Regions from separate parts of the Homo sapiens genome. Here regions 1, 2 and 3 are each linked to region 4. The links come from fine-mapping of genetic effects on gene expression. A gene starts in region 4. Each other region holds a variant in brackets. All regions are shown on one strand. Distances are between the middles of the regions. Region 1 overlaps STK32A (serine/threonine kinase 32A). Region 2 overlaps STK32A (serine/threonine kinase 32A). Region 3 overlaps STK32A (serine/threonine kinase 32A). Region 4 holds the start of STK32A (serine/threonine kinase 32A).

The links. PIP is the estimated chance that this variant, and not a neighbour inherited with it, causes the effect. A credible set is the group of variants that fine-mapping cannot tell apart.
Region 1: its variant is the best candidate, but not a certain one, in a credible set for the expression of STK32A in pancreas (GTEx, PIP 0.89).
Region 2: its variant is the best candidate, but not a certain one, in a credible set for the expression of STK32A in tibial nerve (GTEx, PIP 0.89).
Region 3: its variant is the best candidate, but not a certain one, in a credible set for the expression of STK32A in thyroid (GTEx, PIP 0.54).

Annotation. Positions count from the first base shown.
Region 1 is chr5:147,285,123-147,287,814 of GRCh38, forward strand. All of the region lies in intron 4 of STK32A (serine/threonine kinase 32A), which reads left to right. Among named protein-coding and RNA genes, the nearest start is that of STK32A, 51 kb to the left of the region's middle. The variant G/T (reference allele first, on the strand shown) is at 1,378.
Region 2 is chr5:147,327,031-147,329,722 of GRCh38, forward strand. The region is part of intron 5 of STK32A (serine/threonine kinase 32A); the gene reads left to right. Among named protein-coding and RNA genes, the nearest start is that of STK32A, 93 kb to the left of the region's middle. The variant G/A (reference allele first, on the strand shown) is at 1,438.
Region 3 is chr5:147,297,531-147,300,222 of GRCh38, forward strand. The region is part of intron 4 of STK32A (serine/threonine kinase 32A); the gene reads left to right. Among named protein-coding and RNA genes, the nearest start is that of STK32A, 64 kb to the left of the region's middle. The variant G/A (reference allele first, on the strand shown) is at 1,623.
Region 4 is chr5:147,233,363-147,236,054 of GRCh38, forward strand. STK32A (serine/threonine kinase 32A) reads left to right here and starts at 1,664. Exons shown (of 13, transcript NM_001112724.2): 1 at 1,664-1,837. It overlaps STK32A-AS1 (STK32A antisense RNA 1), which reads right to left and starts at 1,497. Exons shown (of 4, transcript NR_147190.1): 1 at 1,351-1,497.

The DNA of each region.
Region 1 (2,692 bases), 52 kb after region 4:
GAATAGAGAACACAGAAATAAACTCAAATACTTACAGCCAACTGATCTTTGATAAAGCAAATGAAAACATAAAGTGGGAAAAGGACACCCTTTTCAACAAATGGTGCTGGGATAATTGAATAGCCACAAGTAGGAGAATGAAACTGGATCGTCATCTCTCACCTTATACAAAAATCAACTGAAGATGGATTAAGGACTTAAACCTAAGACCTGAAACTATAAAAATTCTAGAAGATAACATTGGAAAAACCCTTCTAGACATTGGCTTAAGCAAGGGTTTCATGACCAAGAACCCAAAAGCAAATGCAATAAAAACAAAGATAAATTGCTGGTACCTAATTAAACTAAAGAGCTTTTGCATGGCAAACGGAAGTCAGCAAACAGCCCACAGAGTGGAAGAAAATCTTCACAATCTATACATCTGACAAAGGATGAATATCCAGAATCTACAATGAACTCAAGTAAATCAGTAAGGAAAAAACAATCCTATCAAAAAGTGGGCTAAGGACATGAATAGACAGTTCTCAAAAGAAGATATACAAATGGCCAGCAAACATATGAAAAAATGCTCAACATCACTAATGATCAGGGAAATGCAAATCAAAACCATAATGTGATTCCACCTTACTCCTGCAAGAATGGTTATAATAAAAAAAAAATCAAAAAACAGCAGATGTTGGCATGGATGCAGTGAACAGGGAACACTTCTACACTGCTGGTGGGAATGTAAACTAGTACAGCCACTATTGAAAACAGTGTGGAAATTACTTAAAGAACTAAAAGTAGAACTACCATTTGATCCAGCAATCCCTCTACTGGGTATCTACTCAGAGGAAAATAAGTCATTATTCAAAAAAGATACTTACACATGCATGTTTACAGAGCACAGAGTTGCAACCCAAATGCCCATCAATCAATGAGTGGATAAAGAAACTGTGGTATATGTATACATGATGGAATACTATGCAGCCATAAAAAGGAATGAACTAACAGCATTTGCAGTGACCTGGATGAGATTGGAGACTATTATTCTAAGTGACGTAATTCAGGAATTGAAAACCAAACATCATATGTTCTCACTGATATGTGGAAGCTAAGCTATGAGGATGCAAAGCAATGAGAATGATACAATGGACTTTGGAGACTTAGGGGGAAGAGTGGGAGGGGGGCGAGGGATACAAGACTACAAATGTGGTGTAGTGTATACTGCTCAGGTGATGGGTGCAACAAAATCTCACAATCACCACTAAAGAACTTACCCATGTAACCAAAACCACCTTTACCCCAATAACTTATGGAAAAATAATCCAGCACCACATTAGGTTTAGTCGGACTTAGCCAGCTTGGCTTACACCCTGGTTTTTCAGGTTCTTATCA[G/T]TCCCAGTTTATGCAGCTGTTTCAACATTTTCCTTTTGCTAGTCATGTGAAACTGCTGTCTGGAATTTTCTTTTCTCCTGCTACCACCCTTTATTATTCTTGTCTCACTTTCATCTTCATCCCTACTGTTACATAAATGCATCTTGATTTCTAGGCAAGCATTTGTCAAATTCTCATTAGGATCTTCCTCAGGGTCTTTTGTTCTCCTTAGTTTCTTTGGCTTTATAGTGAAAGAACATTTTTCTTTTATTGTCACTAACAAATACTTCTTGGTCAGTTGTCACAGTTCCCCTTGTCCTTGAGGTCAATATATATATATTTTTAAACATTGTAATTAAATATGCTGACTGGGAAGGAGTTCAGATGTCTTACTAGTTATTAGATACTTTCTTTCCCCATGAACTGCACGGGAGGAACTTTGGTTACAAAGCTTGGCCTCATCAGCTGACTTGAGGTTGATATTTAGAATTTATACGAAGCACTTTCTCCCTTAAAATAACTGGCAATAAAACTGTTGCTTTGTAGCGTATTTCTTAGGCAGCCACATATATACCTGTAAGTTAGACAAGGATAGGTGCTTCCTTTGTCAACAAATAGCTTTTGCAGAGCTGAAGCTAACTTGTATCAATGACTAGACATTAAGTGACTGTGATCTGCGCTCCAAGCTATTTCCATAATCCAAGGCATAGAAAATGGCAGAGAAGCTTGCAGTATCTGTTACCTCCTGTTCTTTTCTTGTGTGTCAAGGTCTTTGTGTGTCACCTTCATTTTATTTTACATTTTAATGCGTCCATTATGTTAAGTGGTGTTTCTTAAAGCTAATTCAGGATGACTGTTATTTAAATATGCATACCAAGAAGTTCTGACTTACCAGCAAAGAAAAAAAAGGGTCTTTATTCAGAGAATGCTAATGGAAAAATAATTGAGGTTTTACTCTGTGTTTAGGGACATCCTTCTGGAGAAATCAGTACATAAAACCTGCCTCCATCCATCTTTAATTATTACAGTTCATTTAATATACAATTTGCTCAAAGCCTCTATGCCACAGTTGAAAAGAAGATGGTTTTATGTGACTTGGAAATAGGTCTATTACAGTTTATGCACTACTCGGATATGGTAGAGTCTAATTTCAGCTTAAGCTCAGTGTATTTAATCAGTATCTTAGAGTGGCCTATTCAAAATGCTGCCATGTAAAAAGCTAAAATGGATGCAGCTCTTTCTTCCCTACCCTTAGCAATCATCAAATTGCCTTTCTTCCCCTCTCTCTGCATCCTGAGAATGACAAGATACTGTCACTTCACAACCTCCCTTTGTT
Region 2 (2,692 bases), 94 kb after region 4:
TTTAATTCTGACAGTGTTCTGATAACCAGGATTTTCTGCTCTCAGAATACCAGATATCAATTTGAAATGGTGTCAAATAGCTTTTTAAAAAGTGTACATGGTAAAAGAAGCAGTGATCCCTTTGTTTAAGGAATTTAAATGATAATAACTTTGTCAATCTGAGACTAAGAACTCCTGGGCCAGAGAGTGCAAAAAGCAATACAGAAGAGATACAGGCTTCTGAATACTGTAATTCTTTTTTAAACCTCCTTCTTCAAAAGAATCAGCCCGATTCATGTTGTACTTGAATTCAAGATAACAAAACACCTTTTAGTTACTTAGAAAGATTAGATTGTAAAATATGTGCTGAGTTCCTAGAAATTAAAAGTGAGAATGAAAAAAAGAATCAATGAAAGTACAGTAGATCTCCCGGACAAGGAGAGACCATCTGCATAAAACTGAAGATATAAAATATGTGACTTCCTACTTTTAGATTAAAATCTACATTTTGCCTTTGGACATGGTAGAAGATTCAAAATTACCCGTAAACAGTCAGCACTACGTGGAAGTAGGAGCAGCAGTAGGCTGCTGTTTGCTTAGGGTTTCCTGGGTACCAGGCTGCCTGCTAAGCACTTGTGAGTTATTTCACTCAGTCTTCCCATAGCTCCAGGAGGTTTATGGCACTTTGTCCCCATTTCACCTTCGATGAAACTCTGGTTCTGAAAAATTACTTGCCCAAGTTTGCATGGCTATTAAGTAGGGAAAGCATCATGTTTAGGAAATGCAGAGCTCTTCACCACTCTCCAGCCTGCAGATGCTCAGCATGGCTGCAGCTCTGAGGGGAGCACGGGACACCTATGCATGGCCACCTGCCTCAGGCACCCACAGACGAAAGTGGTACATGTGGAACGGACAGACAGAGAACAGCCTAAAATTGGAAGCTAAATTGTGTGAGAAAGACAAGTACTTCAGAGAAGATAGTGTGGAGTCGCAAAATAAGTTTCATGAGAGCTCATACAGAAAACAGCCTAAAACTAGAAGCTAAATTGTGTAAGAAAGACAAGTACTTCAGAGAAGTTGGTTGGGAGTAAGAAAGCAAGTCTCATGAGAGCTCTGAGGGTGTAAATGGGACTTTTAACAGCCAAAGCACACAGCAAGTCTAGCCTAGCAAGAGGAGCTCAATGGATGGAAGTCCTCACTTGTTTCCCTGTGTTAACATAGAAGGGGGTCTTTTTAAAATTTTGTTTTCACTTCAGCTTTTCTGCCAGAAATGTCTAGTGTAGTGATGTTTTAAAAAAAACCATAAGATCTGTTTCCGCCACAAATCCCCATTAAGACATAAATGGAGTTTTATTTTGTGGATGTTTAAAAATCCATGGACTTGAACTTTTGGTAGTTTCCCAAATATGTAGAATATTCAGCTAGTTTTCTTCAATTTCAGAATCTTTCTTTTCTATC[G/A]TTGTTAAAGACACAGGGTTGCATAATAACCATTAAGTTTGAATTGTGCAATTAGACAACTTTCTTATTAGTCAAGAAGTCAAACTTTTTGTGTGAGTACAGCTTGAAAATCAGCTTTAGTTTCCAAAGAATGGCCAGTTTGAAGTATAATATTCTCTTTTGCTTACTTGAAATCTGCAAATAAATGCTTTAAATTAGGGACAAAGTGATTATTTGCTTTTATTTAAAAAATAAGGGAAACAAAACTCATTACAATCTCTTCTACAGGGTTAGTACTATTCTATTTGTTGATTGCCTCAGCCTCTCCAATGAACAATCTGGTGGAAAGTAATTATTTAATATTATAATCCAAAGACAAATTTCTGTTTACTCCCTTGTCAGATCTTAAAGTAGACTCAATTATGAATTTAAGCTAATGAGATGGATTGTATGGGACAATTAAATAGTAAGTCATTTTGGGTCAAAATACCATTTGAGAGGATGGTTGATTGTTTTTTCCCTCTGAGAATTACCCCCCACTATAACGAGGTTATAACTCACTGTTTGCTAAATTTTTATAGGAATGAGATAAAAAATCTGATTAGAGTAATTTGTGCAAGTAATTACAGTACAACAGAGAGAGTTGCAAAAATTTCATTTCCCATTGAGTACCGAAATGTTGAAGAGAAATAAAAGAAGATTTATGGCTGTGTAGAAAAACACAGGATGGTATTTTTATTTATCACCTTTGCCTTCTTTGCTGTTCTCATTGGAACCAATAACTGATTCCAGATTCATCTTAGGGACTGTATAAGATGCAGATAGAAATTATTTCTCACACATGACCTCTTGGGCTGGAGTAGCTGCTTATGAGATGTTCCTATCATTCTTCTAGAAATCAGTACCTTGACAGTGAAGAAAAAAATCTTAGGAATAATGCTTCTAGTCCAAATATTTATTCAAAAATTATTTACTGGGTACCTATTTGCCAGTGTTCTGAATGCCAGGCTCCCATGGGGAAGAAGACAATCCCCCTGTCATAAGAAGTTGTTAATATTATAGTGTGAAAAATAGTCAAGTAAACACTTCAACATTAATATCAAAAGGCTTTTAAATGTTGTGGCATGTGCCATAAAGAATGAAAGCTGTTATGTGCATATCCTGAGCGATGCATGTGTGCCTGCATGCACGTGCACGCACGCACACACACACACAATATGCTTAGTTGCGTCTTCCCAATGCTCATGGTTATACCTCTAATTGTAGCCTCTGGACC
Region 3 (2,692 bases), 64 kb after region 4:
GTTTGAGCATATAAAGGATTTCAACTCATTTCAGATCTGATCACAGCTGGAATGCTGTTTAGCTAATTTCCTGCATGTTAATATTTCAAAGATATGATGAGATTTGTATCTGCAAGGGATTGTGAAGTCCAGCAGGGCATTTGAAGGATATTGTCTGGGCCGGGCATGGTGACTTAAATGTGCTGGCTTAAAATCCCAGCACTTTGGGAGGCCAAGGCGGGTGAATCACTTGAGGTCAGGAGTTTGAGACCAGTCTGGTTCACATGGTGAAATCCCGTCTCTACTAAAAAATACAAAAAATTAGCTGAATGTGGTGGCACGTGCCTGTAATCTCAGCTACTCAGGAGGCTTAGGCAGGAGAATTGCTTGAACCTGGGAGGTAGAGGCTGTAGTGAGCTGAGATCACACCACTGCACTCTATCCTGGTGACAGAGCAAGACTCTGTCTCAAAAAAAAAAAAAAATACTATCTGATGTTGGGTCAAGAAATCATCAGTGTCATTCATTAGACCTGGTATAGACAAAAGTTTGTTGGATCTGTATTTTTATAATCTCTGTAGTATCATTCTTGTTCTGTAGTTGTTTCATTTGTTCTCTCTGTTTAAAAATTATCTTCCTAGGAGATGGATGGGAGCTGAGGGAATGAGCAGAAAGGGATGAGTTTAGATCACAGGAGTAGGAGGAGATGGAGCAGTTAGAGGTGAAAGAGAAAACCTCCAAAATCTTATTAAATTTAGAAATAGTTTCAAACATACTTTTGTTCACCTCTTGAATGGAGGCAATTTTTTCTTTTAGGATTTCTTTTAGAAACTTGTAGGTACTATTGGAAGTAAGTCTCTCACTCAATTTGGTTCTAAAACTAGCTTTTTCTAATTGTGTGTGCAAACAAACTAATTTAGGTATTTTAAAAGGTACCACATTTTGGCCATTGTCAGTTGGAATCATTCTGAGTTATGCTCTACTAGTTTTCTAAATATTTGCATGAAGAGGCATGGTAAGTATTCAGTATGAATCGAGCTAGCATTTCTAATGGTGGATCTCTTCTTAAGGAGGAAACCTCAGTTTTAGATAGTTGAACTGCCTTCAGAATCTGGCCAGTTTTAAAAACTACGCTTGTTTTTTCTTAAGCCACAAAGATTTACTTATTTTTCAAGAGAAACTATATTCTTCTTGGCCAAATTTTGTATTAGAGGAAAGGTTACAAACTCTAATGAATAAGACAAAGAAAACCTTAACTTCAGAGAAAAGTGAAAATCACAAAACAAAGTAAATATAATCTCTAGAGAATAACACATGAAACTCCTGTCTTTCAGTAGAGTTTCAATTCCAATCCCGCAGAGTTAAGAATGTGTATGGCTTGAATAAAGTCTGAATCCTCAACTAACCTGGGAGTATTTGGATACCGAGATGGCTGCCAGATCTGGTGAGGTTGGGTGAACCAAGCTGTTGATTCTGGTACTGTTACAGGAAAGCAGTCCTGATCCATACCCCAAGAGAGGGTTCTTGGATCTCACGCAAGAAAGAATTCAGGGCAAGTTTGCAGAGTAAGGTGAAAGCAAGTTTATTAAGAAAGTAAAGGAACAAAAGAATGGCTACTCCATAGACAGAGCAGCCCTGAGGACT[G/A]CTGGTTGATCATTTTTATGGTTTTTTTAATAATATGCCAAACAAGGGGTGGATTATTCCCTTCCCTTTTTAGATCATATAGGGTAACTTCCTGACATTGCCATGGCATTTGTAAACTGTCATGGTGCTGGTGGGAGTGTAGCATTGAGGACGACCAGAGATCACTCTCATCGTCATCTTGGTTTTGGCCGGCTTCTTTGCCGCAACTTGTTTTATCAGGAAGGTCTTCATGACCCGTATCTTGTGCTGACCTCCTATCTCATCCTGTGACTTAGAATGCCTTAACTGTCTGGAAATGCAGCTCAGTAGGTTTCAGCCTCATTTTACCCAGCTCCTATTTAAGATGGAGTTGCTCTGGTTCACACGCCTCTGACAGTACCAACATTCCAATTGTCACGAACTTGAGGGGATCACTGAAGCTCCACTTTAGATCCCATCTGGGGTGGTAAAATGTCAACGTGAAACAAGATTCAGAAAATATGATTAAGTATAGCATTTATTGGGGCTCAAAGCTTGAAAATTGTTATCCGGGAGCATAGATTCAAGTTGCCCTGAATATACTCCAATTAACAGCAGCGACAAGTGGGTTTCTACGGAAAAAAGAAGAGGCAGTTTCTAACTTGTTCGCCAAAAATTTACGTTAAAGTAACGTAAGCTATTGATAGGCTACACGTTATTCTTTGTATCACAAATTCCAGGATCACGATGATAATGAGCCAGGCAGCTAGTCAGAAACAAAATCCCAGGCATCAGTGTGGGGATATGACTGAAGTCCCATACTCCTGTCTCTCTGGGCCTGACACATTTTGCATAGTTCATATAGCTCAGCCTTCTCTGAGCTATTTCTCTCTTCTCAGTGGCTTTCCTGGAAGCAGCCTCCATCATATGTGACTCAGAGTGCTAGCATTTCTTCATGGGTTTATAAACCATAAGAACTCAAGGTGGCCTTCAGAGCCACAGCATCAACAATATTAACTTCCCTATTAGTAGTGTTCTATTACTTTGGGTTTTACATATATTATCTCATTTATTCATCATAACAACCTGGTTGATAGGGATTATTATTCCCA
Region 4 (2,692 bases):
GTGCACACACACCTGTGATATACTTCCTAATATCCAGCGGGAAAGAGGCTGCTATTACTTTCAATATCGCAGTGGGTGTACATCCCCCCTGTGGTTTTGCTCCTAATATCCAGGGGGGAAGAGATGATATTACTGACAATATCACAGGGGGTGTACACCTCTTCTGTGATATGGTTCCTGATATAAAGGGGGAAAGTGGATGATATTACTCTTAATAACGTAGGAAGTGTACACCCACCCTGTGATTTTGTCCCTAATAACCTCATGGGGAGAGGTGATATTACTCCCAATATTGCAAGGGGTGGACACCCCACAAGTCATATTGTTTCTTAAATCCAGGAAGGGAAAAGATGGTATTACTACCAATATTCAAAGGATGTACAGAACGCATTTCTTATTGTTCTTAATATCCAGGTCGAAAGGAGATAACATTACTTTTAATATAATAAGGGTGGTACACCCTGCCTGTGATATGATTCCTAAAATCTAGAAGAAGAGAGAATGATATTACTTCCAATAATACACTGGGTGTGCAACCCCCTTTGATATTGTTCCTAATATCTAAAGAAAGAGATGATGATATTACTCCCAATACTGTAGAAGGTATACACCGTCCTGTGATATTGTTCCTAATAACTAGTGGGTGAGGGCATGATATTATTTCAAATATCGCAGTGGCTTTACACCCCTTCCGTGATATTTCTCCTAATTTCCAGGGGGTGGAGTACGAAGTTACTCCCAATATAGTAGTGGGTGTACACCCACGCTGTCACATTTCTACGAATATTCAGGGAAACACAGCACGATAGAACTCCAAGTCTCGCAAAGAGTGTACACCATTTTGTGATATTGTTCCTAATAACCGGAGGTGGATAGGATGCTGTTAGTTTCAATATCGCAGGCTGTGTACACACACACTGTGAAATTGTTTCTAATGTCCAAGAGGGGAGAGAATGCTATTAATTCCCATATAGCAAGAGGGTGAGGCACACCCCGCCATATGGGGAGTAATAGGACCCCCCCTCCCTCCCTGGCTACTACGAGCCACATCGCTGGGGTGTGAGGCACCCTCCTGCCATATGGGGATTAATAGCGTCCCCCTTTCCCCCCCGACTATTACGATCCACATCGCAGGGGAGTGAGGCTTCCCCCGCGATATGAGGAGTAATAGCACCGCCCTCTCCCCCTCAACCCCCCGGCTTTTAGGATCCACATCGCAGGGGGGTGAGGCACCCCCGGCGATATGGAGAGTAATAGCACCCCCCTTCTCCCCCCCCCCCCCCCCCGGCTATTACGATCCACATCGCAGGGGGGGTGAGGCAGTTCCCGTGATATGGGGCGTAATAGTACCCGCTGTGCGTCCTGGTGGCTCCGGACCCGGCCCAAGCGCGGCGGGACCTCCATCCGTAGCCCTCTCCCCCAACGTCGCCCTCCCGGGGTCCTTGTCTAGTCTCAGCAGGCGGCAAACGGACCCCAGGCGTCTGGCGCTCACCCAGGAGACTGCCCAGCGGTTTCTGGAGAGAGCGCTAAGCGGAGACGCCCGCTGGCAAGCAGATCCCGCCTCCTTCCCTGGCCAAGGAGCCGCCCCTCCGGGGTAGCTGTGCGCTGGGCGGCGCTCGGACCCCTTGGCAGCCGCAGGTGCCTCCCCAGCCCAGCCCAGCTCAGTCCAGCGCAGCCCAGCCCAGCCCAGCCCGGCGCTCGCAGCCTCCGCCGCTTCCGGGCAGATAGGTGCCTTTTCTTGCTCCTTGCTCTTGGAGTTCTTCTCTTAGTCCCTGTTCCCTGGATGAAAGCATCGCTCCGAGCCTCATGGGAGGAATGAAGGAAGAATCGAGACTAGGTGAGTGGTGGTCTAGATTTAACGAATAATAACAATAAACCTGCATACTAAGGGTACTGTTGGGAAGCTAGGAAGTGCAAGGAGAAGAGAAGACAAAGGCTGCTGATCAAGATAACTCACAAAACTAAATGCAGGCTAGGGCCAATTCCAGCTATTTTGCACTCCATCCAGGTTCCCCTGCCTGGCACTGACTCATGTGCAGACCCAGACAGACTTCAATAAATATTTGCTGGGTTGAGACAAGTGAGTGGAGGTGTTTCTGCTTGTTCTCCAGCATCTAAACAAGCAAAACCTAGCTGCCTTTGATGATTGCTTCATCTCCACAAGGACTTTTTCCCCCAGGACTTAAAAAATAAAATGTGGTGTATTCACACAACGGACTGCTATGCAGCACTTAAAAAGCTAAAATCAGAGCTGTAGGGATCAGCATGCCTGTACCTAGATTTCAGAAGTATGATGGCAGATAGACACAGCAAGATGCAAAATATATCCACTCTCTCATGCCATTTAGGTGACTTATTTTAAGACACTTGTCATGTTTGTAAAATCATAGAAGGGGGACTGTAAAATGTTTATCACATCCGTGATTGTGGCTGTCTTTGGAAAGTGTGAAAGGGAAATCAATTGGACTTTAGGATTAAGGTGGAAATAATATTTCCCTAAAATGCTTTAAAAATAAAAATGATGATATAAAGATGACCAAATATAAACAATTGTTAACTGAGAGTGTTATTAACTTGGGCATTTTTCATGTTTTTGCCCCCTATTTTTAAAATATTTCTTAAACTAAGAAGTTCTGTTTTTCAAATGCAAACAAAATAAGTTGTGTCTATGCACATTCTGTGACAATGAAAC